Linked DNA regions of Homo sapiens. The protein of the gene in region 1 purifies or fractionates together with the protein of each later gene. This does not show direct contact. Each region holds a gene or a part of one and is shown in the gene's direction. Other genes may lie near its edges. The genes, in order: RNF157, CHD1 and ATRN.

Region 1 (9,703 bases):
GGAAAGGACCACCAAGTGCCCACACAGTGGCTGAGAAAGAGGACCGTCTGTAAGCTTTCAGAAGAAGAAGGATCAACAGTTGGAACGACTTCAGACTTCTTGGGAGCAACGCTGGGAGGTGAAAAATAAGGCAGTGAAAAGGCTTTCAGTGTCTTTTAGAAATTATTTATAATCTAGAATACTTTGCTCAGCCAAACTTTCAGTGAAGTGTGAATGTTGAATAATAGCTCTCAAAAGTTTATTTCCCAACACACCCTTTTTCAGGAAGCTGGCAGGACACGTGCTCCACCGATATGAAAGAATAACCCAAGACAGAGGAAGACTTGAGGTGCAGGAAACATGAGCTTCTACAGGAGGACAGAGGCAAAAGGGACCCACCAGGATGTTGGAGGGGGAGAGAGATTCCAGGGTGGCGACTGGGAGCCAGGTGCAGAGGGCCAAGTACAGATGGGAGCAAGTCCAAGGGACCTCCTCAATAAGATGAAATGAATAGACCGCTTGGTGCATCTGAACGTCTTGAGAGATTTAGACAGCCCCAGAGAGCTTGGGTTGGAATTTGTGATGAGTACATAGGAAACTACGCAACTGGAAGAAAAAAAAAAAAATAGGATGAGCACTAAGAAAAAGTTATGCAGGAAAAGAAAAATAATCATAGATTATAAGTTTGTGTAATCACAGTAATACAGACACAAATGTACTGGACTATTATAATAAAATCATGATGCAGCTACACTGGGGGGATGGCGGAGTTCCTACATGGAGCACAGTGAGGAAAGAGAAAGAAATCCTTGTTTCCATAGTAGGAAACCCATAGATAGCGCCTGAAACTGAAAAATCAAGAAGTAGTAACCCAAGTATATTTTTTAGAAACGTGGGTAAATGCCAAAATGATCACTAAAAGGGGTGTCCTCTGAAGACGAGGAAAGGGAAGAAGTAAGGCCTGCTGTTTTTTGCCTTGAGGAAACTATTTAAACTATGTGATTAATAACTTTTATTAAAATAAAAACAAAAGTGCCAAATGCACAATGGTGTAGTGGTAGCACTATGAGATACCAGAAGTAACCTGAATGCCCAGCAACATGGGTCATGAAGCACTCTGTGATCATTCAGAATGAAGAGGTAGACCTATGCTTATGATCATTCAGAGAAGCCCACAATATATTGCTAATTTTTTTAAAGGTAAATTTTAAAATATTGATATGCTACTCTGCAAATGCTGAGTCTCTGGTTTTCTAGATGTGCTGAGGAAGTGAAGAGCCCTGGAGAAGAGGCCAGTAAAGCTAAAGTCCACTACAATGTTGAGTTCACCTTTGACACAGATGCTCGGGTAGCCATCACCATCTATTACCAGGCCACGGAAGAGTTCCAGAATGGTATTGCCAGGTAAGATCAGGAGACCAGGAGAGCCACTTCCTTCCCAGATTATTACCAGGCCACGGAAGAGTTCCAGAATGGTATTACCAGGTAAGATCAGGAGACCAGGCGAGCCACTTCCTTCCCAGATAGGGAGAGTCCATGTCTTATCCACTCAGCAAGGGCGGAAAACATTCTTTTTCTGCAGCCAGATGAGATCTGGTTCCTGAATTTAGACTTTCTTCTACAAAGCCCTACCCTTTACCTTTTCCCTTCAAATTGTGCCATCTTGGTATAGTGACAAATGGTGGTATAGTCCTTCAGGTCCTTAACATGCTGTTAAAAATCTAGTAAGCTACCTTTCTTTGGATGTGTGGGTTGAATAGAAAAGTTTAACGTTGCCAAGCAAGAGCAAAGGAAATGGATTATAAAGGACCCTTTCTTCTCTTCGCTAGACCCTGTTGATAATTGAGAACAGGCATGAGCAGAGGAAGTTGTCAGACCCATCTGTGCCGGATACTGACTTTTGCTTTGCCTCCCACTTGTATCAATAGCTACATTCCCAAAGACAACAGCCTCCAGTCGGAGACTGTGCAGTACAAGCGAGGAGTGTGTCAGCAGTTCTGCCTGCCCTCCCACACCGTGGATCCCTCCGAGTGGGCCGAAGAGGAGGTGAGCTGCCTCTGGGGAGGGTTTCCCACATCCACTCAGAAGGGCCTAGGGGCTACTTAGGACTCGGTCTGACAGCAAAGGGGCTGCTCGGATGCTTGAAGGCCATGCTTACCTTTCAGCCTTGTGACTTCATCATGTCCTTTTAAAGCTCTGCTTATTTTGCATCAAGGATATACCTAACTTTGTTAATTTTTCCATTCCCTAGGAATGGAAATAGCCCATTAGCCTAGGATACTTTGAGAAAGCCATGCTCAAAGAAAAAAAAAATCTATAGGTTAGAGGTTCTTATTTACATCTATGACATTTTTAAAAAGCAGCTGATGGCCCTCAGTTAACAAACTTGGGTAATTAACAAGGCTAAAGAATGAGGAGCAGAGATGAGATTAATGCTTCTTGACAGTATCGCCCTTTCTGAGATTAGCTGTGCCATGTAAATGTGTTAAGTCCTCTTTTTTTTTCCTTTCCTTTTCTTTCCCTTCAGCTTGGCTTTGATTTAGACCGAGAAGTTTACCCTCTAGTGGTACATGCCGTGGTGGATGAAGGAGACGGTAGGGGCGATTTCTGTCCTCTTTGGCTGTGCACACTGCTCTTTTGTGGCATATTCCTGGCAGCAGCTGTGGCCCCAGAACAACATGCCTTCTTTGTGGGTGTTTGTGACTGTGAGTCAGGCAGTCTCTGCATCCTCTCACATCTGTGACTCCAAGCTCCTGGGCTGATGTGAAAAGTGTGGGTTTGGCTGGGCACAGTGGCTCACACGTATAATCCCAGCAGTTTGGGAGGCCGAGGTGGGTGGATCACCTGAGGTCAGGAGTTCGAGACCAGCCTAGGCAACATGGGGAAACCCTGTCTCTACTAAAAATACAAAAATCAGCTGGGTATGGCAGTGTGCACCTCTAATCTCAACTACTTGGGAGGCTGAGGCAGCAGAATCGTTTGAACCTGGGAGGCGGAGGTTGCAGTGAGCCGAGATTGTGCCACTGCACTCCAGCCTGGGTGACAGAGTGAGGCTCAGTCTCAAAAAAATGTGGTTTAGCTGGGCGTAGTGGCTCATCCCTGTAATCCTAGCACTTTGGGAGGCTGAGGCGGGCAGATCACCTGAAGTCAAGAGTTTGAGACCAGCCTGACCAACATAGTGAAACCCCGTCTCTACTAAAAATACAGAAAAGTAACCGGGCATGGTGGCTCATGCGTATAATCCCAGATACTTGGGAGGCTGAGGCAGGAGAATTGCTGGAACCGGGAGGCGGAGGCCACAGTGAGCCAAGATCATGCCACCGCACTCCAGCCCAGGCAACAGAGCCAGACTCTGTCTCAAAAAAAAAAAAGTATGGGTTATATAACGTGCCCCTTCTAGAGACAGACTGGCACATTTGGTTTGCCAGATTGCAGGGAACTGGAGAAAGTCATGGGCATCAAGATGTGCTGTTTGGGCTTCTTCACTCACGTGCCTTTGTTTCTTTCAGAGTATTTTGGCCATTGCCATGTACTGCTGGGTACTTTTGAGAAGGTGAGTGACTTTAGAGGGCCTCGCTTTATTGCCTTTAGCCCTTTCTTTCGTGTGAGACACATGTAACCCGTTTGCTGGGTGCCTGAGCTCAGCAGAATGGGTCTGGCTTTAGAGGCTATAATGGTGAAAGAGGTTGCAGTGAGCTGAGATGGCACCACCGCACTCCAGCCTGGGCGATAGAGTGAGGCTCTGTCTCAAAAAAAATAAATAAATAAAAGAAAGAAAGGCTAGACTGGATAATTATAAGACCTTTAAAGAATTAGGATTGTATAATTCTGCTCTGAGAGTGTCCAGGAACATGTGTACAGTAGTCCCCCCTTATCCTCAGGAGATAAGTTCCAAGACCCCCAGTGGATGCCTGAAACTGCAGATCGTACAGAACCCTCATATACACTGTGGTTTTTCCCATACTACATCCACACCTATGATAAAGTTTAATTCATAAGTTAGGCACAGTAAGAGACTAAGAATAATAGTAAACTAAAACAATTATAACTATAAGGTAATAGAAGTCTGAATGTGATCTTTCTCTCTCAAAATATTGTATGTAATATTTTCAGACAGTGGTTGATGGCGGGTAATTGAAACCATGGAAAATGAAACTGCAGATCAGGGAGGGCGACTGTAACTGGGAGATGTAACAGAAGAATACCTGGTGCTTTATTACCCTCCCTTCCTTGTCATAACTTTCATATTTTCATTCCAGCACACAGATGGAACTTTCTGTGTCAAGCCCCTCAAACAGAAACAAGTAGTAAGTATTTGAAGACCACAGACTGTTAGTATTAGGGTCCTTCCTTCCTTTTATTCTTTCCTTTCTTCTTCTCTCTCCCTCTTTTTTTATTTTTGTTTTACTTTTTGCTCTCTCCTTTTCCTCTTTTTTTTTTTTTAATCAAAGAAGAAAAGAAAAAAAGGGAGTGCTTTTGAATGTTACAAGCTATTACAAACGACTTGGGTGGCCTGAAAGGAATGCTGATTTTTGAGGTCTTCATTGTTCCAGAAGTGTTGGTGTTGAGGGAGCCTTTATCTGAGCAAAGGACTTGAGAAATGAAAGAACAAGATTTATTTCCCAACATTGGGTTTAGGGAGAACTCTTTTTATTTAAAATGCCAGAGTGAGAAACATTTCAAGCGAAAGGATAAAGCATTAGGGTCCAATTTAGTGTAATTAGAGTCATTGGCTTAATTTATCCATTCCTTTTCTAAAATTCAAAGTTAGCCATCCATTCTCCCTCTTCCAGAATGATCAGCACCTTGTGCATATGTCTGCTAGAAAGTCCCAGCCCCTACCATGTGCCAGCACTTTTCTTTCCACTCTTGTAGAGGTAGGAGGAGACATCACTGGGAGGAGAGAGAGTGGTGCCAGTGGCATTGGCAAGGGAGGGTGGGTGAGGGGCAGGTCATCTCACGGAGGGTGTAGAGCAGCTGGGTAGGAGGCAGGGTTGGGCTTCCTCGAGATGCAAAGAAAAGCCTTCCTGTAGATGGGTGATAGATACCTGAAATTCTACACTGTTCGTTCTTTTAGGTTAATTACTCGCCTCTCTTTTAATGAGGTCAATAATAAGAATATCTTAGGATAAATTAGTTTTCCAATATAATCACTGCATGAAAACAAGTTTTAAGAGCAGCAGAGGAGGAAACAGATCCTGGGCTCAGGCCCAGGGCACTACCTGGGCAGGCCAGGCCTTGGTGAGTTGCCTCATGGGGGAAGGCCTGGTTCTCCAGGAGGCCTGGATGGGATGGAAAGGCTCGTGTAGCTAGAGGAAGATGGTTTGTCCATTTTCCTCTTGTTAGATTGGCATTAGCAACAGACTGTTAAAACGGAGAGTGGGATATAAAATCAGCGACAGGCTATGTCTTAGGGGAAGGGATGGCTAAGAAACAGAGGTGAGGCAGAAGAGTGTGCTCCTAAAAGTAAATGGGGCAGGGCCAACTTAGACACTGACATGGCCCAGGTTAATGGGAGTGGGATTGGGCCTTGGTAGTTGGGGTTTTAAGAAACAGGGCTGGCCGGGCTTGATGGCTCATCTCTGTTATCCTAGCAGTTCGGGAGCCTGAGGCAGGTGGATCACTTGAGGTCAGGAGTTTGAGACCAGCCTGGTCAACATGGTGAAACCCCGTCTCTACCACAAAATACAAAAATTAGCCAGGCATGGTGGTGCACACCCTGTAATCGCAGCTACTCAGGAGGCTGAGACAGGAGAATCGCTTGAACCCAGGAGGTGGAGGTTGCAGCGAGCCAAGATGGTGCCACTGCACTCCAGCCTGGATGACAGAGCAAGACCCTATCTCAAAAAAAAAAAAAAAAAAAAGGAAACAGGGCCAAGAGGTGTAATTTTGCTGCATGTTGGGGATGGGGTGGCTTCATGGTGTGGGGTACACACCATTAGCCTCTCCCTCAAGGTCTTGCTATCGCCCTTTGCATCCATATTTTCCCTTCCCATCTTTTTCCTTGCCAACTTCTTCTTCTTTTTCTTTCTCTTTTCCATTCCTTTATTTGTATAATGTCTGAACTCAAATTGGATTATATAGCAAATGCCTAGATTTTAATGCATGCCCTTCCATCCTTTTTCTAGTCTGTGCCTTCTTAATTGTCCATAATAGTATGCTGCAGTGCAAGTATTATTATTGTATTTGTGAAATTTTATGTTCCCTGTTGTATATAATGATGGGTGAATTAAATATTTGATTTTCTTTCTTCTCTCAAAGAGAAAACATAAGTAAATAAAAGCATCTTTTACTTATCCAGGCCTTTGATTTTTTTTCTCATTATGAATCGGTAGTCCTTGGTTACCAAAAGAGGTAAGATTGGAGGGAGTTCCCACTCTTGTCTCTCAGTAGAGACAGCCTGTCCTTGAACCTTTCTGTTTGCTGTTCAGGTAGACGGGGTCAGCTACCTCCTTCAGGAGATCTATGGAATTGAAAACAAGTACAACACACAAGATTCTAAGGTAAGTTTTACCCAAAATTCTGAATGTACTCTTTCCAGGAGGCCAAGTGAGAAATCGTAAGCCAGCGTCCAGAAATTTAGCGTGCCAAACTCTGAAATCAGTTAGGTCTTAGAAGGGTATTTTCTTGTTCCTCATTTCAGATCATTACGCTTTTACCACTTTGGAAATGAGAAAAGTAGGCTGGTTTGGCTTTGTTCTGCCACAGAGCTCTGTCCAACTCGGTTTCCACCAGGGCCCTTTCTTTGCTCCTTTTCCTTTATCTGTGTGATCCCCTAAGTCCCTTCAGCTGAGATTTGAGAGGCCCAGCTCTGGGCCTTATAGGAGGAGCTCGAGTGGTTAGTCTCGTCCTCTCAATTTTAGATAAACACTTCCCAGAAGAAGTGAAGCTAAGTGTGTGGACGCACTGGGAAAATGACAAAGTCCAATGTCAATGCAGATTTTGTTCGTAATTATTACTTATCTTAGCTCTTCAGCCACGCTGCCTTGTCAGTAAAGTATGGGACAGGAAGGGCTTTGTGCCATTGGCTACATTTCTTTCTCCTTGGCCAGGTGGCTGAAGACGAAGTGAGTGATAACAGTGCCGAGTGTGTGGTGTGTCTCTCGGATGTCCGGGACACCTTGATTCTGCCCTGTCGCCACCTCTGCCTCTGTAACACCTGTGCAGACACGCTGCGCTACCAGGCCAACAACTGCCCCATCTGCCGACTGCGTAAGCCCCAGAGCGGCAGGGGGACTGGTGGGTGGGAGAGGGGACAAGAGGACATTTACAAAACACTGAAGCATGTGCTGCTGCTGGATCTGACAAACGGATGCGCGCTGGGAGGGATCATGGTTTCTGTCTGGGCTCTTGTTCATTCTTAATCCTGTATCAGGATGTCCTGATTGCCTGTTTTCTCCTTCACAGCCTTCCGGGCACTGCTTCAGATCCGAGCCATGAGGAAAAAATTGGGCCCCTTGTCCCCAACCAGCTTTAACCCCATCATCTCATCCCAGACATCTGACTCTGAAGAGCATCCAGTAAGTTGGGCTCGGAACCACGGCCCCTCTGAAGCAAATGCCTCATTGGCTTTTTTAAACTTTTCATGCTTCTCTACGTGGCATTGCAGCAAGGAATTAGACCAGGGCATGCTGCAGTATTTAGCAAGCCGGCTGAGAGCATGCGTTAAAACCAACTTATTACTGTGGAAAATTGAATACTGAAAACCTCCCTTTTCCTCCTTGGGAACTTGGTGTCCAGTTAATGTTTACCATTCCTAGAGCCATCTGCTTGCAGTTTCACTCCAGTGAGGTTCAACTTGAACTCCCCCAGGCAGAAACAATGGGACGATTATTTTGGATTTAAATACAATTTATTATCTTTATTTGAATCCTCGAAGAAAGTAACTGTTTTTCTTTATCCTGTTTTGTGGCCTCAGTGCCTGAGATAAAGTAACTGACTTCAGTTTCCTAGTGTAAGTGCTGATATTAGGGTGAAACCTCAAAGCTTTGCAGTTAGAGAGCAGCAGATACTGTCTTTCTTTAGACTAACGCACTGCTGGGAGAGATTATTATTTAGTGAATGGTATTGGGATAATTAGTTAGCTATTTCAGGAGGAAAAATTAGTTTAGCACTTTACTCCTTACCAAATAAATTCCAGCTGGAGTAACTAGTTAACTATATTAAGAGCATCAAACCAAACAAACATTACAGCAAACCAAGCAAAACATTCAAAATCTAGAATAAATTATAGATGATTATTTAGTTGACTTTGGATTGGAAAGGATTCTCTAAGCTTGAAAGCAAGAACCATACATTTTACCACCTAAAAAGTTTAGCACTTCAGAGGTCTAAAAGGTAACCAAAATTAAAAGTTAGACAACAAATAGTGTTTTTTTAAAAACTATTTACAATGTGTGTATCAGAGGAAAAGCTAATGTCTTTGCCATAGTTCATATTGAATAAAACAGTAGATAAAAGGGCAAAGGGCATAAACAAAACACACTCAACATAGAATTTTTTAAAAAGTTCAACCACATTAAAAATCAATGATATGCAAATATGAGAATACCATTTTCCAACTTTCAAATTTTAAAAACTTTTCTTTTTAGCGATTCTCCCTGCTTTCGGGGAAGCAGTCAGAATAGGTCTTCTGTATTACTTATAGGAGTGTAACTAGAAAAGGCACTGAAAAAAAAAACAGCAGAAAACAGCAGTATATATCAAGGCCTTAAAAACATTTATACCTCATCATCTAAGAGCTAATAATTTAATAACAAGAACATAATTTGAAAAAAAGGCATTCAAGGATGTTCATCAAAACTTGTTTACAATAGGATGTGTTAGACACAACTAGATTCCCAGCACTAGGAGAATAGTTAGAAAACTTAGGGGATCTATGAGAAGGGGACATATATAAAGAGGCTTCAGAAACAAAGGAAAATATTTATGTTCTGGCCAGGCATGGTGGCTTACATCTGTAATCCTAGCACTTTGGGAGGCCATGGTGGGAGGATCAATTGAGACCAGGAGCTCAAGACCAGCCTGGGCAACATAGTGAGATCCCATCTCTATTTTTTTAAAGAGGAAAGTATAATAAAATAAGCAGAATATAAAATTGTTATTTACAGATTGATCAAAACTGTGTAAATAGTACACAGAAAAAAAATGGGAAGAAGAGACACCAGAATGCTAACAAAAGTAACTTTGGGTGATTTGATTACTGGTGATTTTTTTTCCTTACTTTTACTTTTATGTATTTTCCAAATTTCCATTATAATCAGAAAAAAAATAGAGATTATTAAGAAAAAGCTTACCAATAAGCAGGATCTACAGTGTGTGATTCTTTGATATTTTATCTCTGCCTCTAGTACAGTTGTTCTTACCAGACCCCCCCAAGAACAGATATAAAACATTTTTTTCAGTGTAGAGAAGTAGCATGATCACGTCATAAAACAAAAAGGACCTAATTAATTTTTCAACCTGTCTCTGATTCCCCTAGTCCTCAGAGAATATTCCACCAGGCTATGAAGTAGTATCTCTTCTGGAGGCCCTCAACGGGCCCCTCACCCCGTCCCCAGCAGTTCCTCCACTTCACGTGCTTGGAGATGGCCACCTCTCAGGAATGCTCCCTTCATATGGCAGTGATGGCCACCTGCCCCCCGTCAGGACGATCTCGCCTCTTGACCGCCTGTCTGACAGCAGCAGTCAGGGACTCAAACTCAAAAAGAGTCTCTCCAAGTGA
Region 2 (10,434 bases), on another chromosome or scaffold:
CTGTTTTATAAATAGGTGTCCTGTCCTACCCACATGTCATCTAAACAAAACGTTATGAGTCAATACTGTGTTAATAGGATGCTGTCAATGATTTTTCAACAATGGCACATTAGAATCACCTAGGGGAGCTTTTAAAAAAATGCATGTGCCAAGGCCCCACCTCAGAACCATGGAATATAATCTTGAGCATTTTTAGTACACAACTCCTCAGTTAATTCTAAATTTTGGCACAGCTGAGAATTATGTATCTTCTAAACATATTACTCTTCCCAGGAATATATGCTTTAAAACAGATTTCTATCAATGACTTTTCAAGCATTAGTAGAGGATGAAGTATAGATTTGTGGAACAGGAGGTTCTCAGTCTCAAATCACACCAATTAAGTGACCACCCATAGCCCGTAACTGTAAATGATGGTATTGTTCAGTTCCTGTTTGAAAAAAAACAATGAAAACAAATTCTCCCAAATCAGACTTTGAAGATATTAATGTATTTGTTTTTTAGATGATTAATATGTGCTAATCCTTCCACCTAATTCTTATACAGCAACTGGACATTATTCACCACTCTTTCCATGAAGCCTTACTCATCTTCAGTAGCGCAACACCCTGCTGGTAACTGTGTAACTCCTCCTTATCCAGTTCATCTTCCTCTACCTAGTCAAAAATAAACTGGAATTCTTCACTGCACACACTTAGGCTGTCTTCCAAGTTTACTTCATGAATACTCAAGACTTTAATTTTTCCCTACACACTTCACACTTAACAGCTTTAATTTTCAGTCTAGACTTCACTTAGCTCCATGGTTCTATCCAGAAACCTCCTGGGCAATTCAAAGGCATCAGAAATTCTGTAAGTCTTTTTTTTTTTTTTTTTTTTTCCCAAGACAGAGTCTAGCTCTGTCGCTCAGGCTGGAAGGCAGTGTCACGATCTCGGCTCACTGCAACCTCCGCCTCCCAGGTTCAATCCATTCTCCTGCCTCAGCCTCCCAAATAGCTGGGACTACAGGTGCATGCCACCATGCCCGGCTAATTTTTTAATTTTTAATTTTTAGTAGAGATAGGGTTTCAACGTGTTGGCCAGGATGGTCTCGATCTCCTGACCTTGTGATCCACCCGCTTTGGCCTCCCAAAGTGCTGGGATGAGCCATCACACCCGGCCCAATTCTGTCTTAAACCAAACGTAATGATCTCCCTATCTATACATCTCCAAATACATTACTATATAAGTGAATGTCATTCAGCTGCAAATGACTAACATCCCTCCTCCTCCTAACCCTGCCTGAATCCAATCCCATCAAGTTTTGTTACCCTTCCCAATTCTACTTCTCTCCACCTCCATTACACTATCCTAGTCTATCATGTCATTTCTAACCTCTCTTATCTGCCAAAGACTCCTGACTTAATTAGGAATACTGTATCTACTTCAACCCACATCTAATCCTTCTTTGGGATTTATACCTAAAGTAAAAACTTTCAATTTGCCAGTCCCATCAAGCTACCACCCAGTTTCAAATCCTTCAATAGCTTCCTCATTGTCTTGAAAAACATACTTCACTTAGCCTTTGGGCCTAGTGTCTATGTAGCCTCATCTTGTCCAGCTGCTGTTTGCTCCAGCAGAACCATGCTTCTTAGAGTCCCTTATAGATAGGATGGCCCTGCAATTTACTATCCAAACCTGAACACTTCTGAAAGTGAATACGGCCTGTTCTTGGCAAACTGGCAAGTGCACTGACGTGATCTCTCTGACCCCAGAATCTTTGCCCATGTTGTTTCTTTTACCCAGAAAGCAGCTCTTGTACTTCCCTTTCTTGCCTACCTAATTCATATTAATTCTTCAGCTCTAGACCACAACGATCACGTCACTTCCTTGAGACTTTTCTGACTAGGGTTCTTTATTATGGATTCTCACAGCACCGTATGTCTCTTCATACTATTTTTCTAAGTTGTCATTTTATAGTGTGACTGTGTCCTGAACTAGGCTTTAACTTTGAAAGTGTTAGTTTTTGCTGTATTATAATCCCTCCCTACCCTCAGCAGAATGTCTGGTATGTAATACATTCTTACATTTGTATTGAATGAATATCAATACAATGCACTGGGGCACAGTACTCTTTGCTCAAGGACCTCACAATGTAGTATGGAAACAAATGCTATATTGTGATACAATGACATGCCGCACTTACAGAATACTCAATTCCATGTCCTAAAAGGGAGGTCAGAGAGTTTTCTGACAAGTCTTATAGGTTGTCAGCACAATTGTGTCAAGGTACTCAACAGTTCTTGAGCATTTACTTAAACGAACTTATGAAAGACTGACCCATAAGATAAATGGGTTATATCCACTTACAATGAGAGATACCTTTCCAGTGACCTGAAGAAGTGTCTAGAGTACCAAGTGTCCATTAGGAATGATGAGAGGCAATACTGAGATTAGTCTGTGAAAAAATTAAGTAACTAAAATACTAGGAATATATGATATGTACATACATCTTCATATATGTTTAGTTTACAAATATATGTGGTATATAACAGGGGACTGATTTAGTTAGATTTCAAGTTTGAAGGAAACCTAAAGGATAAGCTGAAGGGAAAGATAGAGAAAATAGAGGCCTAAACTAAGCCCGGTAGTGGGAGTTAAAAAGAAAGGATGAATACAAAATTTCTGCATTAAAATGAGTGGTACCGTTTGTCCCTCAGTATCTGCAGAGAATTAGTTCCAGGACCCCCATTTACCAAAACCTGGGGATGCTCAAGTCCCTTATAGTTGAGCCTCTGTACCTGCAAATCCCTGCAGGTACAGAGGACCAACAGTATTTGGACAGCAGTGAATAAAGAATCTGGGCAAGGGCTGGGCATGGTGGCTCACACCTGTAATCCCAGCACTTTGGGAGGCTGAAGCAGGCAGATCACCTGAGGTCAGGAGTTTGACACCAGCCTTGCCAACATGGTGAAACCCAGTCTCTACTAAAAGTACACAAAATTAGCTGGGTGTGGTGGCGCGTGCCTGTAGTCCCAGCTACTTGGAAGGCTGAGGCATGAGAATCACTTGAACCCAGAAAGCGGAGATTGCAGTGAAATGAGATAGCACCACTGCACTCCAGCCTGGGTGACAAAGTGAGACTCTGTCTCAAAAAAAAAAAAAAAAAAAAAGAATCTGGGCAAGGAAATGAGTGATACAGCATCAATGCAATAATTTTTAAATATTTTTGAGGTTGGCTACTTAACCTTCTTTCTTACTCTGCGTGCACACTTAATTTTTCAGTAGAGGATGGAATCTTTGTATCTTCTTCAATGCCTATTAGATTTTATACATACTTGCCTCTTAGTATCATCTCTAACAATTTTCTGTTTGAAATTTAGCTTTTAGTGATTCAAGAATTTATCATTCAAAATCCCCAAATACAGTGACCATAAAGAAGGTGGATGAGCCGCTGGTAGATATCAGAATAATCTGGGAAACTTCCCAAATACTACCTAGAACCTAGAAATTCTGCATATCAGCAGAGGGGAAGAATAGGAGTGTCAGGCACGTGTAGTTACAAAAGAACTTTCCAGGTGACTGAGTCCTATCCCTTGCCCAACACTGGGAACTAAACTCCTCTAATTTCTTATTAGGAAAACAGAAAATGTACAGCAAATCTTCACTAGAAGATGACTTAGGATTTCATGGTTTCTATTCAGAGGACTTTGTAAATTTAAGAATCATATTGGAAAGACTTCCTCTGGTTTTGCAAGGACATGGGAAATACTGTCACAGGTTGAGATTCTAGGGTATTTTAATAATGTCCCGATTGTTTTTGTGGTTTCTCATATGCAAATCCTCCAGGCAACAAGGACATAATTATGGAATTAAAATCTTAACCCTGGCATCCAAAAAGCTAACAAAGGAGCAAGTTATCCTGTTTATGTTATATATTTCACAATTCTGGATATGTGGTTCCCAGCCTATCCCCACCTAAGGATACCCATTTAGTACTTTACCTAGTAAAGCATATCACAATTAAGGACCCACAAAATGCTGTCTTAGATTCCGGAAAAGTAATATTCTTTCCAAAGAATATGAAATTTTAAAAATGAGAAATTAAATAGTAACAAAAACCTCCTGGTTAATGTTAATTATGTGGAATTTTTCGTTAGTCATGTGTTGAGATTATCAACTGTTTGGCTATTGTTTTAGTACCACTAAGTAGAGATAAAGCTAGTTTATTCAAATAAAGTGACACTGCAAATTTAACTATGTTGATAACAAATCATCAAAAAGGTATCTTTGGATTACCTACACGCTTTTTAAAAAATGAACTGGCAAGATTGTTGCAATTTTCCACCTACTGTGTACTTCTGCAAAGCAATAAAGTATGATTTTACTCGAAATCTAAATCTCCAATGTTCAATATTTTATTACAAATTGGGCAAGATCTTTTTTCGAATAGCATGTTTGATGGCACAATACGACAGAATAGCATATTCAATGGCACAATTAGTAGTAAAAAAACAAAAAACCTGCCTGACGTGCTTCCGGAAAACGTAAAATAGACTGTATATACAGTAATTCTTTTCATAAGACAATGACAAAATGTCAGAGTTGTAATTGAGGACTTTATTAACTGAACTATACTTCTGATTACAACATTCTGTGTATGTTAATAGTTTCTCTGGAGAAATTACGGGCACAGGAAGTTCCTCTCATTAAGGATATTAACATAAAGCTTAATATGAAAAATTAGCACTCAGTTCAGAAATGACGACTTCAGAAATGACTTCAGAAATGACGATTTGTATGATCTTTTCATTCCTCACAACCCAGTATTAAAACTATCTAATATTGCAAAGGATGGTAGTGTTCCACTTCGTTTTGCTATTCAATTATTGCTGATAGATACATGTTTTCAAAAAGGCCATTGGCATCTGTTTGCTTTCTCCTACTTCTCCAAGTGAATACACCCTTCAATATGTAGTAAATACATATGTGGAGTTATGTTTTGAGATTTTTTTGAAGGATTTGAACCAAACTGTTTAAACAGCTGGTAGCCTAAAACTGGAATATTTCCCACAAGGGAAAAATAATTATTTGGGGAATGTATGTTACCACAAACTCATCTGACTTGGAAAGTGCGCCTTTACACCAAATCAAATAACTGAACAATGGGATTAGAAACTTTTAATTATTATTAACCTCGGCCACCGGGCGCCGTGGCTCACGCCTGTAATTCCAGCACTTTGGAAGGCAGTGGCAGGTGGATCGCTCGAGCTCAGGAGTTCAACACCAACCTAGCAACATGACAAAACCCCGCCTCTACAAACATAAATAAAAAACAAAAATCATTAACCTTGAGTGAGTCAAGTTCATCTGCAGACTGAAAAAAATAAAGTGTAACAGAATTTTGATTTAAAAAACGCTTTCAAAAAAGCATTTCAAAATGCTCTAAGTATGTTTCAAAAATACACTTAAAAATATGTTTCCAACACACTGAAGGGATTTAACTAAGATCCACAATTACAGTTACGATACAAACTGTAAGCTAAAAGGCAGCAACTTAAGCTGAGACAGTTACTAACATCCCTCGAGCAGCGTTTTTTGTTGCGATTCGGCGCCGCACCCGTCACCCCGCCCTCCGGGGAGGAACCTAGAAAGGAAGGGTGGTACATTTCTAAACCAGGCCACCCACACATGAATCAAGCGGCATCACAGGCTGTCAACAACCGGGTCTCTATTTTCTCTCCTCCTCCGGCGCCCCGCCCGTGCGGGACATCAGCTCCCAGGATGCGTCAATCGCAGATCGCCCAAGCGTAAGAGGTGGCGAGAGGCCACCACGGTTGCCCAACAGTTGCGTTCCCAGGCTGCCTGGTGTGACGCAGCAGCCCCCGCCCGGACCCTGAGGCCTGGCGCTCCGACTGAGCCGAGGCCTGTGCTACCCGACACTCCTTGCGACCCGGCCCCTTAGGCTTATTCAGCGCGGCCCTTCCCGGCTTCCCGAGTCCCATCGCAGTCTCTCCCCACCCCCGTTCCTCCCCGGTTCCTTGTCAGTGTCCGCCGCGATGTCCTTGCGCAACCATCCCAAGTGACATTAGCGCCCATACCCGCACGGAGCGAGCCTGAAGCTCCCACTTCCCGGAATTCAACGCCGGGCCGCTAAGGGCGGGCACCCAAGCGAGGATCAGCGGACTAAGGCCGCGACCAGAGTCCAGCGGTCTCCGCGCAGTCAGAGTCCGACAGCCTCTGCGCATCCGCCGTGCGCACTCCCATTCGTGCGCGTGCGCGCACTCGCCCCCCCCGCCCCGCCCCAGCACCAATCGCTTTTTTCCTACGCCCACGACCCTTCAACGTAGTCCCTCCCGCCTCCCGCGCGCGAGCAGAAAGGCTTCGGCGTGCGCGCGCCCGCCCGCCTCGCGCTCTGTCGGGAAGGGGAGTGAGCAGAGGCGCTTACGTCGCGCGGGAGGCGGAGGCGACGGCGACCTCGGTGGCGGCGGCGGCTACGACGGAGACGGTTGCGCTCGCTTGCTTTCTCGGCGTCATGGCGGCTGCCGGGGGCAGATAAGCGGAGGGAGCGGGAGCGCGCGCGCGACGGCGGCGGCGGCGGCGGCGACGACTGGTTACTTATAGCTCTTGCTGCCCTCGCCCTTGGTGCTTCAATAATGAATTGTTAGCTCCACTCCGCAGGGGATCGCGCGTTGGTGCTGCGGACCGGGGCTTCCCCTTCCCCTCCGCGTCTGTCCCCTTCCCCCTCCCCCGCACGGACTCTTGCTTACCCCGAGACGCCGGAGCCCTAGGACTGGGCGGCGGAGATCCCGGGCCTGGGCGCGGGGGAGGCCGTCCACCCGAGTCGGCTCCCTCCGCCCCGCCAAGCCCGCCGGTAAGAAAGGGGGCGGCGGGCGGGTCAGGATGTGGCGGAGAGGACAGGAACCGGCCGGGCGGAGGGCGGGCGCGGCGCGGTGCCCAGGCGGCGGCCCAGCGGCCGGGTGAAGGCCGGGTGGCTCTGTGAGTGCCGGTGGCGGTGTACGGGCCTGGCGCGCAGGGGGCGTGTGAGCGGCGAGTACAGGCCGGGGCCGCAGAACGCATCCTTGCGCCGGCCCGGCGGCCCTGCCCCGGCCTCTTCGGCTTGGTGCCGACCGGGCCGCGAGAGGAGACCCGCGAATGGCTAGCACTTAGCCGGTGCGTGGGTCCTGCCGCGACCCGGGCTCCCAGCACGTGGGGAGCGGCGGGAGGGGGAGGGGGCGGCGGCTCGGGCGAGCCTGGGAGGGCGCGGGGCGGGTCTGCGGGAAGTTTGAGGCGGGAAGAGGGACTCCTGGACCGGGATGGAGGCCCTGGGAGAGGGGGGCAGGTCCGCGAGGGAGGCTGATTGGAGCGCGCTGGATGGATGAGTGAGGATGGTTTCCAAACCTCTTTCGAGTGCCGCTTTAAAAACTTAGCAGGAGCAAAGCAACTGCTAAAAGACAGAGGATTGAAGAGGTTTAATAACTTAGGGTAGTCATTGTGGAGACGCTTGAGAGGACACAGCGCTGTGTGCGCTTGGAGCTTCAGAACTCAGGGTTGTGAAAAGGGTCTCAGAGGACTTATTCGGATAAGGGAGATGGAGGGGAAAGGAAGTTAAAATGTACAGAGAAAGCCATTTTGAGGGACGAAAGGAAGGTGAAAAGGAAAGAACGAAAAGGGGAGTGAACTTTTTAAAGGAAGAAACGGGAAAGGCAGTTTGTTAACATACTTAGATTTTTTAAGACTTAATTGTTCAGTAAGGCACTTTGACTAGGGTTGAGATTAATATTTAACATTAGGAATAAATGTTGAGTAGAACGGTTACTTTTTAGATAACCTGTTCTTGCAGAGTCTACTGGACAGTAGTCTAGAGAATTAACATCCTGATCCAGATGCAGACTTTGCTATCATTGAGTTGGTAACAATCTGTTTCCCTCCCTCTCTTGTGGAATGGAAATAATCGTAGGAGTGAATTCTCTTTGCTGAGGTCGGAGGACAGCTCTGCTCTCAGTTGGCTGTCTCGGTACTTTCTGGCTGGGGAAGGATCTGACGTCTCCTTCCCCCGCTTCTTCCTCTCCCTCCCCTGCCAGAGATCTCCTTTGTTTATTCGTGGATGGCTTGTAGGTGATTCTTCAGTGTTGTACTGAAATCTTTAAAGGTGGAAATGGTGTGTCTTGGTTCATTATTCTTGCCCCAAATTTTTTACGTAAAAAATCAGATATAGTGTATATTCTATTACCTTTTCAATTTTTTTCACAAAATAAAAACCAAGTGCAAACTGGTTAAGTATTATTTAAATGTTATCATCCCACTATCCGTTTACCTGTTAAATAACACATTTATTTTGAGCTATGCATTTTTGTTGAGAGTATATGGTATCTTTTATTTGCCTGTTCCTCCCATGGGAGCGTTTTCAGAACTTTCTCACTCAAGTGTATGAAGTTCTTGGTGATAGGAGTGAGGGCTTGATTAAAGGTAACCTCCTCCCACCCCCCCCCCCACTTCATTTATTCGACCAAGTTATCTAATAAGACTCCGTTATCTACTCTTGGGATGTATGCATATGTTACATCGTATCACCTTGCTTTAGGAGTCTATAAAAACATTGTTAGTTGCAGTTAGTCTCTAAAAATCCTTTCACTCCACAAATATTTTAATTTTTTCTGTCCGAAGTATATTAGCAGTAGCATACTAAATTCTAGTTAGCAGTCAGGAGTGTAGTTATTACAAGTCTAGATATTTTAAGTATTTAATAAAAGGCCCCCACTTCTTCCTTAACAGCTGTAGTCTAATTGGCCTACGTAGATTTATACGTTTTAGACAGGGCTTAATTTACCTTTTTTCTGCAGGAAATTTTGTTAATTTATTAATATATTTTCTTTAGGTGAATCAAAGGAGAGTCCCAGAAAACCTGTGACTGTTGAAGAAAATTCATCTGTGAATTTTTATATTCAAGGAGTCAGTATTTATATTCATCTTTTAAACTGGGAAGATTTATATTTTACTTTAAAACTTCTTGATAATAATTTACAATGAATGGACACAGTGATGAAGAAAGTGTTAGAAACAGTAGTGGAGAATCAAGGTAAGTAAGCACTTTGTTATCAATTGTTTACTATGAAGAGAGTTGAAAACTTGACTTTTTTCTTTATTGTTATTGTTGTTATTTAGTTTTCCTCATAGGTAGCAGAGTTTTCAGGTTTTCCTCTTAGCTATCCAAATACTAAAAAAATTCTGATATACGAACCTTTTTTCATAATACAGGTTTTAATTATATTTTTCATTCAGATACACAGTAGATCTTAAATATAGAAAGTTTTTGTTTACTTAAATCTATTTGGAAGTTTATATTTGAGCTAATAATTAAGCTGGAGCATGTATAATAGATTTAAATTGTTTTGACTGTTAGTGAAATTTCTAGATGAAGGCAATAAAAATTTTTTCACTCATCTTTTTCTGGCATTTTGTCTTCTATACCTGTACTGTCCAGTGTGGTAACCACTAGCCACATGTGGCTATTTGAACTCAATTACAAAATATTCAGAATTTACTTAGTCATACTAGATATATTTCAAGTGCTGAATAATCACATGTGGCTAGTGGCTACCATATTGGACAGCACATAGAAAACATTCTATCACTGGAGAAAGTTTTAGACAGTGCTGAGCCAGACATTTGTTGAAATATTACTGTGGCCCTTTTTTATTTTCAGATTGGAGTTTTAATTATCTGTGAAGGAGTTAAGAGTTCTTGCTTGGGTCAAGTGTTTGCAAAGAAGATTCTTTAAATTCTGTAGCTCTCAAATTTTGAGTTATCTGCACATTAGTTTACAATCCATGTAGTTATATGCATTATCATATATAGAAATTAGGAATGTGGGCACTGGAGTCAAACTGTTTGCTTACCCTATTTCTACCTCTTATTAGTTGTGTGAATTAGGGCAAATTACTTAATCTCTGAGGCTCTGATTTTTGCCCCATAAAGAGGGGATTAAACTATTGTTTATCTTATTTAAAGTTCACGGCTGGGCTTGTTGGATCCTGTTTGTAATCCCAGCACTTTGAGAGGCTGAGGAAGGAGGATCACTTGAACTCAAAAGTTGGAGACCAGTTTAGGCAGCATAGTGAGACTTTGTCTGTAATTTATAAAAAATAAAATTTAAAAAAAATTTGAGGATTGAGATGCTTCATGTAAAGGGCTTAAAATATTTTCTGAGATAATGAGCACTGAATATTTGCTTATTGTAACCAGCATGTTTTGTGTAACACAGGATACTATATAAAAAAAACATTAATTACAGTGATGGAGACATGGGGGTGGACAAGAAACAGGAAAGTTTTGGCAATTAGGAAGATTAAGAAAAAATGTTAGATAGAAAACTAAATAGTGGTATTTGTATTTGATCTGAAACTTGGACTTTTCTTTTTCTTTTTTTTTTTTTGAGACAGAGTCTTGCTCTGTC
Region 3 (10,127 bases), on another chromosome or scaffold:
AAGTTTCTTTCTCCTCTTTGTCTAGCCTTGCATTGTGCTAAGAACAACAGACCTGCAAAATTCTCACAAGTTGACTCTTCCCTTCGTTGGCCCCCAGCACCTTGGCCAACACTGCTGAAGGAAGCTGGTACCCAGGTGGGAACAAGAACCAGACTAGTAGGACTTCTGCACTGTCAACTTTTAAATTTCTGTGGTTTTATGCCACCAAGTTTGTGGAAATTTATTATAGCAGTCACAGGAAACTAATATGTCATCTGTAATTAGGAGAAATTATAAGGGATTTTAATCCAAAAGGATGGCTTCAGTTTGGGAACTTCTAATTTGAAGTACTTCATGGCCATATTTAGCAAAGTCATTTGTCTTTTAACAGTAGTACTGTTTTCATAGTATCTTATCTATACACAAGAGAAAATTTTTGTTCTCTGTTGTAGAAATTTGGGGGAGGGGGCATGAATCTAGCTCATCCAATAGAAATTTCAAGTCTTCTGCCTTTAAATTGATGTGCTCATCCCAGTGCAGCGTCTTGTCCCTTGAGCTGACATAAAGGTGAACTCCTGTACTTGTGGGACTTGTCTGAGGAGGCCACCAGGAGCTCTGCCAACAGCTCAGAGGTATAACTTTATGCTCCCAGATCAGGGACTCCTAAACACTTTCTCTTACAGTCTGCCAAGGACTATTGGAATCTTATTGCTGGTTGGTTGACAGTGGGATATCCATTGGAGCTTTCAATGGCACTTTATTCCTACCTAGAACCCTCTCAGTTGTGTTTGTTCCAAACCTTCAGGATCAACCTCTTTCACAGGCAACGTAGTACCTTACCTTCTAGGTGAGATTTTAACACCTATAATTAGAGAATTGCTTGGTCACACATTGACTAAAAGTATAAGGATAACTTTGGGACAATAAAATGTATCGATGTTTCAAACAGTGCAGAATGAGGACCGGTGATGTTTGCGGGAAAGTCAGATGGTCAATCAGATCTTACTTGAGCAGTATTCAATCTTTGCTTTCTAGTAGGTATTTGATAAACAAACATTTGTTATATGTATTACACATACATGGAGCTATCTATTTGTATCTATTGGTACCCCTCCCAAATTTCCTTTATAGGATCCTTCTTACTGCTGTGAATGTTGTCTGCTGAAAGAGATGTGTGTACAAAATGCTGCTCCCTTACCTCAAAGTGGAATCAATTCTATGGTACAATTCATGCTCTAGGGCTCTCCATAGGATCAGGCTGAAGCTCAACTCTAGATAAGACCAGACCACATCTTTTCTCAACCCCCTCCTGGGCTCTATCTTGCTTCCTTCACTGTGTTTCTTCCGAGAGCAATCTTCCAATGAATTATGCACTCAGATCCTGTTTCAGGGTTCTGCTTCTAGGGAATCTGACCAAAGACACTGCATGAGTAAAAGCCAAAAATTATAAAATCCATCTATGTCCATGACTTGGAGACAATGCAAGCAAAGAAACAGGAAGAGATGACATGAAATCAGAGAAAGGGCCAAGGTGAGTAAGATGCCTTACTTAAGTGAAAAAGAATAGGCATAGGCACCTTCAAACCATCCTGCACTAACCTAGTGGAGACAAACCCTTTTGGTCATGCAGTTGGCAAGAACAATGTTATTTTAGTGTCTGGACTTAGAGTAATTTGTATCAAAGCCTGGGTATTCTTTGCCACTGGCATTACAGTTTCTGGGACCTGGAAATGACCACCATGACAAAGACCAGTGGAAAAAAAGGGATTTCAGGCAGAACTGCTGCAGAATCTTGCTGATAAGGCACTGGGGTACAACAGAGGCACTTCTGAAGCTACGGTGACTACGGTGACCTCCTTCATGAGAAGCAACTGGACAATGATACTAGTGTATTACATATAGATGACTAGTTGTAGATTATACATTTATATACAATTATACTGTCGTTCTTAATTCTTAATCAAGTCCACATCACAAGACTTATTCTTGTCCTTGGAGGAACCAGGGTACAGAGTATTCTGGTAATTTATTATTGTGTAACGAACTGTCCCCAGTTGGCTCATTTATTTGCTTATGTATCTGCAGTTTGGGGCGGGTTCAGCAGGAACAACACCCCCCTGCTTCATGATTGGGGCCCCAACTGGGAAGACTTGAATGGCTGGGGGCTGGCTTCCTCACAGCATGGTGGTCTCAGGGTAGCTGGACATCTTTTATGGCAAGTGTTCCAAGACACTTCAGGAGGAAGCTGCAAGACTTCTTATGACCTAGCATAAAGTCCCATTTCTGGGACCTCAGAAATCCCAGTACATCACTTCCACCATAGTCTATCAGTCAAGCAAATCACTAAGGCCAGGCTAGATTCAGAGTGGGGTGGGGGTGGGGGTGGGGGTGGGGCCGGGGCCAAGGGTTAGACCTGATCTCTCCATAGAAGGAATGTAAGAGAATTTGCAGCCATCTTTAATCTATCACACAGACATAGAATGTGTAGGGGACTTTTTGATAAACGCAGTAAAGGAAAAAGAAGATAGCAGGTAAGATTTTGTTTCTTTGTTTATTTGTTTTTAGAGACAGGGTCTTGATCTGTTGCCCAGGCTGGAGTGCAGTGGTCCAAACATAGCTTACTGCAGCCTCAAACTCCTGGGCTCTGTGATCCCCCTGCCCCAGCCTCCCAAGTAGCTGGGACTACACATGCACGCCACCACATCTGACTAATTTTTTAAAAAATTTTTTGTAGAGACAAGGTCTCACTATGTTGTCCAGGCTGGTCTCAAACTCCTGGCCTCAGGTGATCCTCCCACCTTGGCCTCCCAAAGCACTGGGATTACAGGCATGAGCCACTGCACCCAGCGTGTTTGTTTTTTAAGGACAAAATAATTTGAGCATGTTTGAAAGCTAAGGAAAAAGAACCAGAGAAGAGAGTAGATTAAGGAAGTAAGAAAGAATGTTTGCTGCAGCAAGATTCTAAGGCTTCAGAGTAGCAATATCTAGTCTAGGGATTGCTGTTCTTCAGATGCACACCTTTTCTGTTATCCCTGAATGTTGGTAAAATCATGTGAAACTTCACAGTGTGGGTTCAGTCTTGCTGTGGGGAGGGAAGGGAAGGAAAGGGCTGGTTCACTTCTGGCCTGGAAGATTAGGGGGAGCAATGTCTCCTACAGCTAGGGCATGGCCTATGCCAGCCTCCCCATCTGATGGGGTCCTGCCAGAGGGTAGGGCCATGTCTTCAATTTCAAAATCCTACATGGCAAAAACATAACCTGCAAACCAGAATGTCAGTGCTAGGGCCTAGGCCGAACAATAGTTTTCCTGTAGGAATGGGGAGTATGTGTGGATGTAGAGCTGGGGGTAAGGCTTTTGTGCAATTCAGCTTCACCAGGCTTGAAGAAGATGCAGTGAGGACAGTCAGGACCTGAGTATGAGAGTGGGACCTGGGTATGAGTGTGGAAATCCATCTTAGAACCTTAAAATTCCATACTCTGAGGTAAAGCTGAGAGGCTCCACAGGTCTATGAGGGTTTTTCTTTGTTTCCCAGGGACTGTAAGGTGCCCAGATTCTGAGGTAGGTGCCATAGGAATATTCCTCATAGCACAAGCATTATGTCGGACAATGTTCTGCTTATCTATTACTGAGTAACAAACCTCTCTAAAACTTAGAGGCTTAAAATAACATAAATCATAATTTATGAAAAATTATAAATAATTCATCACTTAAGGGTTAAATGATAAATGAGTTATTTCTTAGGATTTTGGATAAGTCACAGTTAGGAAAGACCTGTTACTGTTGTAGGTAACATGGAACAGCCCAGACGGTTGGAATAACCCAACCCAGATAGCTTCTTCACTCAATGACTGATCCCTTAGCTAGGATGGCTCCACCAGCTGAGCGGCCCAGCTCTCCCTCTCCAAGTCCAAGTGGTCTCTGCACATGGTTTCTCTCCAGCAAGGTGGCTAACGGGGTGCAGCTCATGACCACCAACAGCTCAAAATCAAGGCTGCCAGGTCTTTTTTTTTTTTTGAGACAGAGTCTCGCTCTGTCCCCCAGGCTGGAGTGCAGTGGCGCGATCACGACTCTCTGCAACCTCTGCCTCCTGGATTCAAGCGACTCTCCTGAGTAGCTGGGATTACAGGTGTGTGCCACCACGCCCGGCTAATTTTTGTATTTTTTGTAGAGACAGGGTTTCACCACGTCGATCAGGGTGGTCTCGAACTTCTGACCTCGTGATCTGCCCGCCTCGGCCTCCCAAGGTGCTGGGATTACAGACGTGAGCCACCGTGCCCGGCCAAGGCTGCCAGGTCTTTTTTAAGCTCAGAGCTAGAAACAAGACATTGCTACTCCTACCAACTTCTTCTATTGGTGAAATTGAGTCATGGTTTCTCATGGTCTCAATCATGACCCAGCCCAGATTCCAGGGTCAAGGACCATAAAAGGCTACATTGATGGAAGACATGTCTCATTGAGGGACACCAGAGTAACAACTACCAGACAAGAAGGGGCAGGTCTGTGTGAGCGCCATTTCCTAATTCTATATTGCCCACTCTTCAGAGAAGATGGTTGGAGGGCAAATTGTGGGGAGCAAGGTAACTCCAAACTTTTACAGAATTAAAGGTAGGGGGTCTGGTCAGCTACAGTCCATCTGTTATCAAGAGGCCTGGCTGTGTGTCTTCATTCAGTTTATTAGGCATTTACTGAGCACAGCCTACATGCCAGGTTCTTCATTTTTTGACACAGGGTCTTGTGTTGCCCAGGCTGGAGTGCAGTGCTGCGACTGCGGCTCACTGCAGCCTTGACCTCTCCAGACTCAAGCGATCCTCCTGCCTCAGCCTCTGGAGTAGCTGGGGATACAGGCGCGCACCACCATGCTCGGCTAATTTTTGTATTTTTAGTAGAGACAGTGTCTCACCCTGTTGGCCAGGCTGGTCTCGGATCCCAGAGATCAAGTGATCCGCCTGCCTCAGTTTCCCAAAGTGCTGGGATTACAGGCGTAAGCCTCCGCGCCCGGCCTATGCCAGGTTCTACATGTGTTCTTTCTTGACTCTTGTGTTACAGAGGCTCGAATGAAGCCTGGCTTCTACAGTACCGCACCCAGCACCTCGCTGCGATGCAGCCTCCTGTACCCTTTCCGTCCGGCAGCTGGAGTTAGGGCAGAGTGCCGGGTCTCTAGGAGGGCAACACTCAACGCAGTCGGCTCCTAGGCATCCAGTGGGGCTGCAACCCCGCCGCCGGGGACGAAAGGCGAAGGGGGAAAACTAGAGCTTTCGCCGGCCGGGACAGCGCAGCCGGGTTTCAGCTCGTTCTACGGTCCACGTCAGAAGATCGCCTCCGGCGCCGCGGACGCCGGAGACCACTGTCTGCGCCCCCGCACGCACGCACCCACGTACTCGCGCACGCGCGCGCCGGCCCCGCCCACCGCCCCGCTGTGGCCCCTTTGGACCGCACGAGCCACCGTCCGCACAGCCCCGCCCCGCACGGCCAGGCGAAGCGGAGCCGGCCGTGCGGTGTGTGTGTATGTGTTCGCGGGGCGCCGTCTCAGCCCCGGGAAGATGGTGGCTGCAGCGGCGGCAACTGAGGCAAGGCTGAGGAGGAGGACGGCGGCGACGGCAGCGCTCGCGGGCAGGAGCGGCGGGCCGCACTGGGACTGGGACGTGACCAGGGCTGGGAGGCCGGGGCTGGGGGCCGGGCTGCGCCTCCCGCGGCTGCTGTCTCCACCGCTGCGGCCACGGCTGCTGCTGCTGCTGTTGTTGCTCTCGCCGCCGCTGCTGCTGCTGCTGCTGCCCTGTGAGGCCGAGGCCGCGGCGGCGGCGGCGGCGGTGTCGGGCTCAGCCGCAGCCGAGGCCAAGGAATGTGACCGGCCCTGTGTCAACGGCGGTCGCTGCAACCCTGGCACCGGCCAGTGCGTCTGCCCCGCCGGCTGGGTGGGCGAGCAATGCCAGCACTGCGGGGGCCGCTTCAGGTGAGTGGCGGGTGGTGTCGGAGGGTCGGGTCCAACCAGAGGCTGGGGCTGAGGGGCGTTCGAGACGGCTCCAGGTCAGAGGGAGATGCTGGACAGAAAGTGGAGAGGGTAGGGCCGCCCTATGGGGTTTGAGGGCCATTTGCTTCCGGGGAGATCATCGTCTCTGGCCTGGGGTCTTTCTCTGTTGGAAGGTGAAAAGGTGTGGGGCAAGGGTGGGGGCACCCCGACGGTATTTGGGTGCTTAGGTTAGTTAGATGGGAAGAATGCTGAGGGACCCAAAGAGCATCAAAGCCGATCGCTCTAAAACTCGGCGTGTTTCAGCTAAACGAGGTATCCAAGGAAAGGTGGTCGAGCCAGGTTTGCTTGAACACTTCCTTTTAACATCCACATGTGCCCTAGGACCCGATGAGTTCCCCGATGCACTGGAGATGTGGGGTGCTCTGAAGAAACAGGGCCCTGGAAATGCTTTGTTGGCTGGAGATAAAAGGGAAAGGGTAGCATTGTAAGATATTAGGGATAGAAGGACCAGTGGTCCTTCTAAAGGAAAGTGAGGAAACTAGCCTTTTGGCAAAAGCTCCCTGGAGGTGGCAAATTGGAATAGGGTCTGTGGTGAAGAGGGAATGGAAGGAGATTCCTATTTGCCTTGGTTTCTGGACAATATGAAGTTCTGAATTGGCTTAGTTTGGGGCAGTTCCTCTTGGAGAAATCAATAAATTAATTAGCAGTTATCGTTATTTGCTTCAGTTGTGCAATGATTTTCCAGATAATACAGACAGATTAGCCAGACTTTGGCCTTGTCCACAGGGAGTTTGGAATATAGCAAGAGAAAGATAATGTGCGCACATAACCCTAGTCATAAGGGTTACAGAGTCATTCACGCCTTTGACAGGTATTTAGCTTACTGAACACATGTCTGATGTGGGGGAGTGGGGAAATGTGAACAAGACAGACAGGGCCTCTGCTCTCATTGACCTTAACATTCTAGTGGGAGCAACAGGCACTTAACAAGTAAATAAATGAGAGAAATAAACATGGTAATTTCAGGTAATGGTAAATGCTATCAAGAAAATAAAAACAGCGTGGTCTGATAGAGAATTATAACCGGTGGTGACTCTTGGAGAGGGTTCTCATTTGAAATGACATTTGATCTGAGACCTGAATGAGGCAACAGGGAACTTGTGGGAATTCAGGGATGGAGAGGTTGTGGCTAGCTGGAGGGATGCAAGGAGGACTTTGAGGAGGCGGTAACATTGGATTTGAGCATGTAAGGTTAAGTAGGATTTGGAAATGTGGAGCTGGAAAAAAATTACAGATGGAAAGAAGGGTGCAAACAAAGTTGTGGAGGCTGGAAAGTAAAGTTTTGCTGCTGCCTATGTGGAAGAGAGTTGTGAGAGAGGAGTTTGGAATAGCAAAATTGTAGACTTAGGTAATATTAGGTCTTCTGAGGAACTCAGAGAACGTTGAGCAGATGAGCTCTTTAGTTTTATGGATGGAGAAACCAAGTTACTTCAGGACCACTGATGCAGTGAAGCTGCTTTTGTAACTTAGGGTGTTCTGATTTATGAATTCCATTAACCTACATGTATTTGTTGAGGGCTCCTATGTTTTAGGTTGTGAGATACAGTGGTATACAAGACAGGCACAGTCCTGCTCTTACGGAGCTCACATTTCAGCTTGGGAGTAAAAAAATCCAACAAAAATTTTATTGTAATTTTGTTTAAGGCTGTGGAGGTAAAGAGCAGGAGACAAACAGAGGACTTGACTTAGTCTAGGGGTAAGGTAAGTCACTGAGGAAGCGATGTGAAGTCTGAGGGGTGAGATGGTACTACCTGCGTGAGGGGTGGGGTGCTGAGGGGCCAGCAGGTACAGAGGCTTGGGGTTGAAGCGGATGGAAGGCCAGGTGGCAGGAGCAGAGAGAGCAAAGGGGAGCTTGGCAAGACTGGAGAGAAAGGCGGGAAGCCAGGCCAAGTGGAGATCTGTGGGTTGGATTGAGAATTTTGACCTTTAGCCCAAGAGCTGTGAAATGGCGTAGTTCACGCCTATTTTCATGACATTATAGGCTTTTAGATTGGAGCCAGAATACAAATGGCCTTGAAGGTGAGGCCAGGGCATTTTCCATTTGAGAAGCTTCCAAGGTCAGGTGAATGGATGGTTGAGTCAGACGAGGATCCTTCAAGTTCTGAAAACCTGGGACACTGTGGTAGGCAGTGGGGACCAGCGGTGTGGGAAGGGGACTTCATAGCAAGATCAATCTGTAATGTTCAGAGTAGGTACACTCACTTTGGGCATGAGAGATAGGGGGCAGCTAGGTGGGATCTGTTGGCATGGGTCAGAGCAGTGGTAATGAGAGCTTGTAGAGGTGAAATGGACAAGTCTTCCGTGTAAACTGGTTTGCTCTTGGAAAGGTGGGGGATGGTGAGGGAAAGAAAACTAGATCCTGTCTTGGGTGGTTGAGAGGACAGTGATACCATTAACAGACACAGGGACACAGGAGCAGGTGTTAGACATTTAATTGCATGCATGCTGAGTTTGGGGTGCTCTCAGAGTACACACCTGGCAGATGTTAAGTTTGGAGTCATCGACCTATGAGGGAGATTGCCAGGGAGCTCTCTCTGAGAGTCCACATGGAAAGCCCAGAGGATTGGATAAGAGCTACTTGTTGCAGGGAACAGGCAGTCCTGACACTGGTTGTCTCAAATAGTGTCACAGGTGAGTGAAGGGACTCCCCTGCTTATTGTGGACATTCCCTTTGAGCTGATTCTAGGTGATGTCAGTGCTGTTTCCTGGGTAGACAATTATGACTTTGGTCCTGATGATACCATTATATTTTGTGGGCTTTGGGATTTTGCATTTTTAAAAATGAAAGTAGGAGGAACTTATGACTCTGGTCTTTTAAAAAAAACTCAGTAGGCCAGGCGTGGTGGCTAACACCTGTAATCCCAGCACTTTGGGAGGCCGAGGCGGTGTATCACGAGGTCAGGAGATCGAGACCATCCTGGCTAACTTGGTGAAACCCCGTCTCCACTAAAAATACAAAAAATTAGCCGGGCGTGGTGGCGGGCACCTGTAGTCCCAGCTACTCGGGAGGCTGAGGCAGGAGAATGGCGTGAACCCGGGAGGCAGAGCTTGCAGTGAGCCGAGATCGCACCACTGCACTCCAGCCTGGGTGACAGAGCGAGAGTCCATCTCAAAACAACAACAACAACAACAAAAACTCAATAAAATTTTAGTCGAGGCCAAGCGCGGTGACTCACGCCTGTAATCCCAGCACTTTGGGAGGCTGAGGCGGGCAGATCAAGAGGTTAGGAGTTGAGACCAGCCTGGCCAACATAGTGAATCCCCGTCTCTACTAAAAATACAAAAAATTACCTGGGCATGGTGGCAGGCGCCTGTGATCCCAGCTACTCGGGAGGCTGAGGCAGGAGAATTGCTTGAACCCGGGAAGCGGAGGTTGCAGAGAGCCGAGATTGCGCCATTGCACTCCAGACCAGGCGAGGGTGTGAGACTCCATCTCAAAAAAAAAAAAAAAAAAAAAAATTTAGTCCAAGTATTCTTTTGGGGGCAAGAGTGAAATGTTGGTTTTGATTGCAGTGGCTTGTATCTTGATTGAACTTACAAACCTCTTTGTTATTAAAAGACATTAAATGAATACCTTTCTGATTTAGAATGGCATCAAGTTGGAGTGTTTTTTGAGCTTTTTAGTCCTGTAAATCCTGTGTTATAATTGCCGTTATAGGGTTTTTTCATTAATTGAAGGGAACGTAGGCTAACGAGGAGTGGATTTCCCTAAGGTTATCACTGAGTGCAGACTATGTGCCACAGAGCATTTTCATGTACATTGTATTATTTAATCCTCAGGACAACTCTGAGGGTGTTATATAAAATTTAGATTATTGAATTATTGTAGTTAGTAACATTTTTTCTAAATAAAAGATGACATAGAAATGACTGATTTTAAAGGATAAGTTAAAGGATGTCAGTTTAATAAAAATACCTATAGAATCTTTGGTGTGTGATTTCTAAGGCAGTACCACTTTCGTTCATTCTTATGTGAATCTTCATAATTCAGTGATCATTTTTTTCTACTTGTAAGGTCACCAGTGTAATTTTTCTTCGAAGGATAAATATGCCCATAGGATAAATTAAGCTCATTTTTGAATTTAATATTCATTCAATTCTTTTAAGTTCCTGCTGTAGA

The links.
Region 2: the proteins of RNF157 (region 1) and CHD1 purify together in Homo sapiens (affinity purification with western blotting; 2 studies listed by BioGRID, with this or other methods). This does not show direct contact.
Region 3: the proteins of RNF157 (region 1) and ATRN purify together in Homo sapiens (affinity purification with mass spectrometry; 2 studies listed by BioGRID and IntAct, with this or other methods). This does not show direct contact.

The regions. Positions count from the first base shown.
Region 1 is NC_000017.11:76,159,331-76,169,033, reverse strand, and holds part of RNF157 (E3 ubiquitin ligase RNF157), read left to right. Parts: intron 1-1,236; coding exon 1,237-1,383; intron 1,384-1,907; coding exon 1,908-2,025; intron 2,026-2,506; coding exon 2,507-2,573; intron 2,574-3,488; coding exon 3,489-3,532; intron 3,533-4,238; coding exon 4,239-4,286; intron 4,287-6,410; coding exon 6,411-6,482; intron 6,483-7,031; coding exon 7,032-7,191; intron 7,192-7,386; coding exon 7,387-7,499; intron 7,500-9,460; coding exon 9,461-9,699; intron 9,700-9,703. UniProt on the Homo sapiens protein: E3 ubiquitin ligase that ubiquitinates APBB1 for its degradation by the proteasome and thus prevents apoptosis and promotes survival of neurons.
Region 2 is NC_000005.10:98,924,957-98,935,390, reverse strand, and holds the start of CHD1 (chromodomain-helicase-DNA-binding protein 1), read left to right. Parts: upstream 1-6,383; 5' UTR 6,384-6,852; intron 6,853-6,859; exon of another isoform or gene 6,860-7,151; intron 7,152-8,856; 5' UTR 8,857-9,004; coding exon 9,005-9,057; intron 9,058-10,434. UniProt on the Homo sapiens protein: ATP-dependent chromatin-remodeling factor which functions as substrate recognition component of the transcription regulatory histone acetylation (HAT) complex SAGA. Regulates polymerase II transcription.
Region 3 is NC_000020.11:3,465,589-3,475,715, forward strand, and holds the start of ATRN (attractin isoform 1 preproprotein), read left to right. Parts: upstream 1-5,429; 5' UTR 5,430-5,484; coding exon of another isoform or gene 5,485-5,519; coding exon 5,520-5,929; intron 5,930-10,127. UniProt on the Homo sapiens protein: Involved in the initial immune cell clustering during inflammatory response and may regulate chemotactic activity of chemokines. May play a role in melanocortin signaling pathways that regulate energy homeostasis and hair color.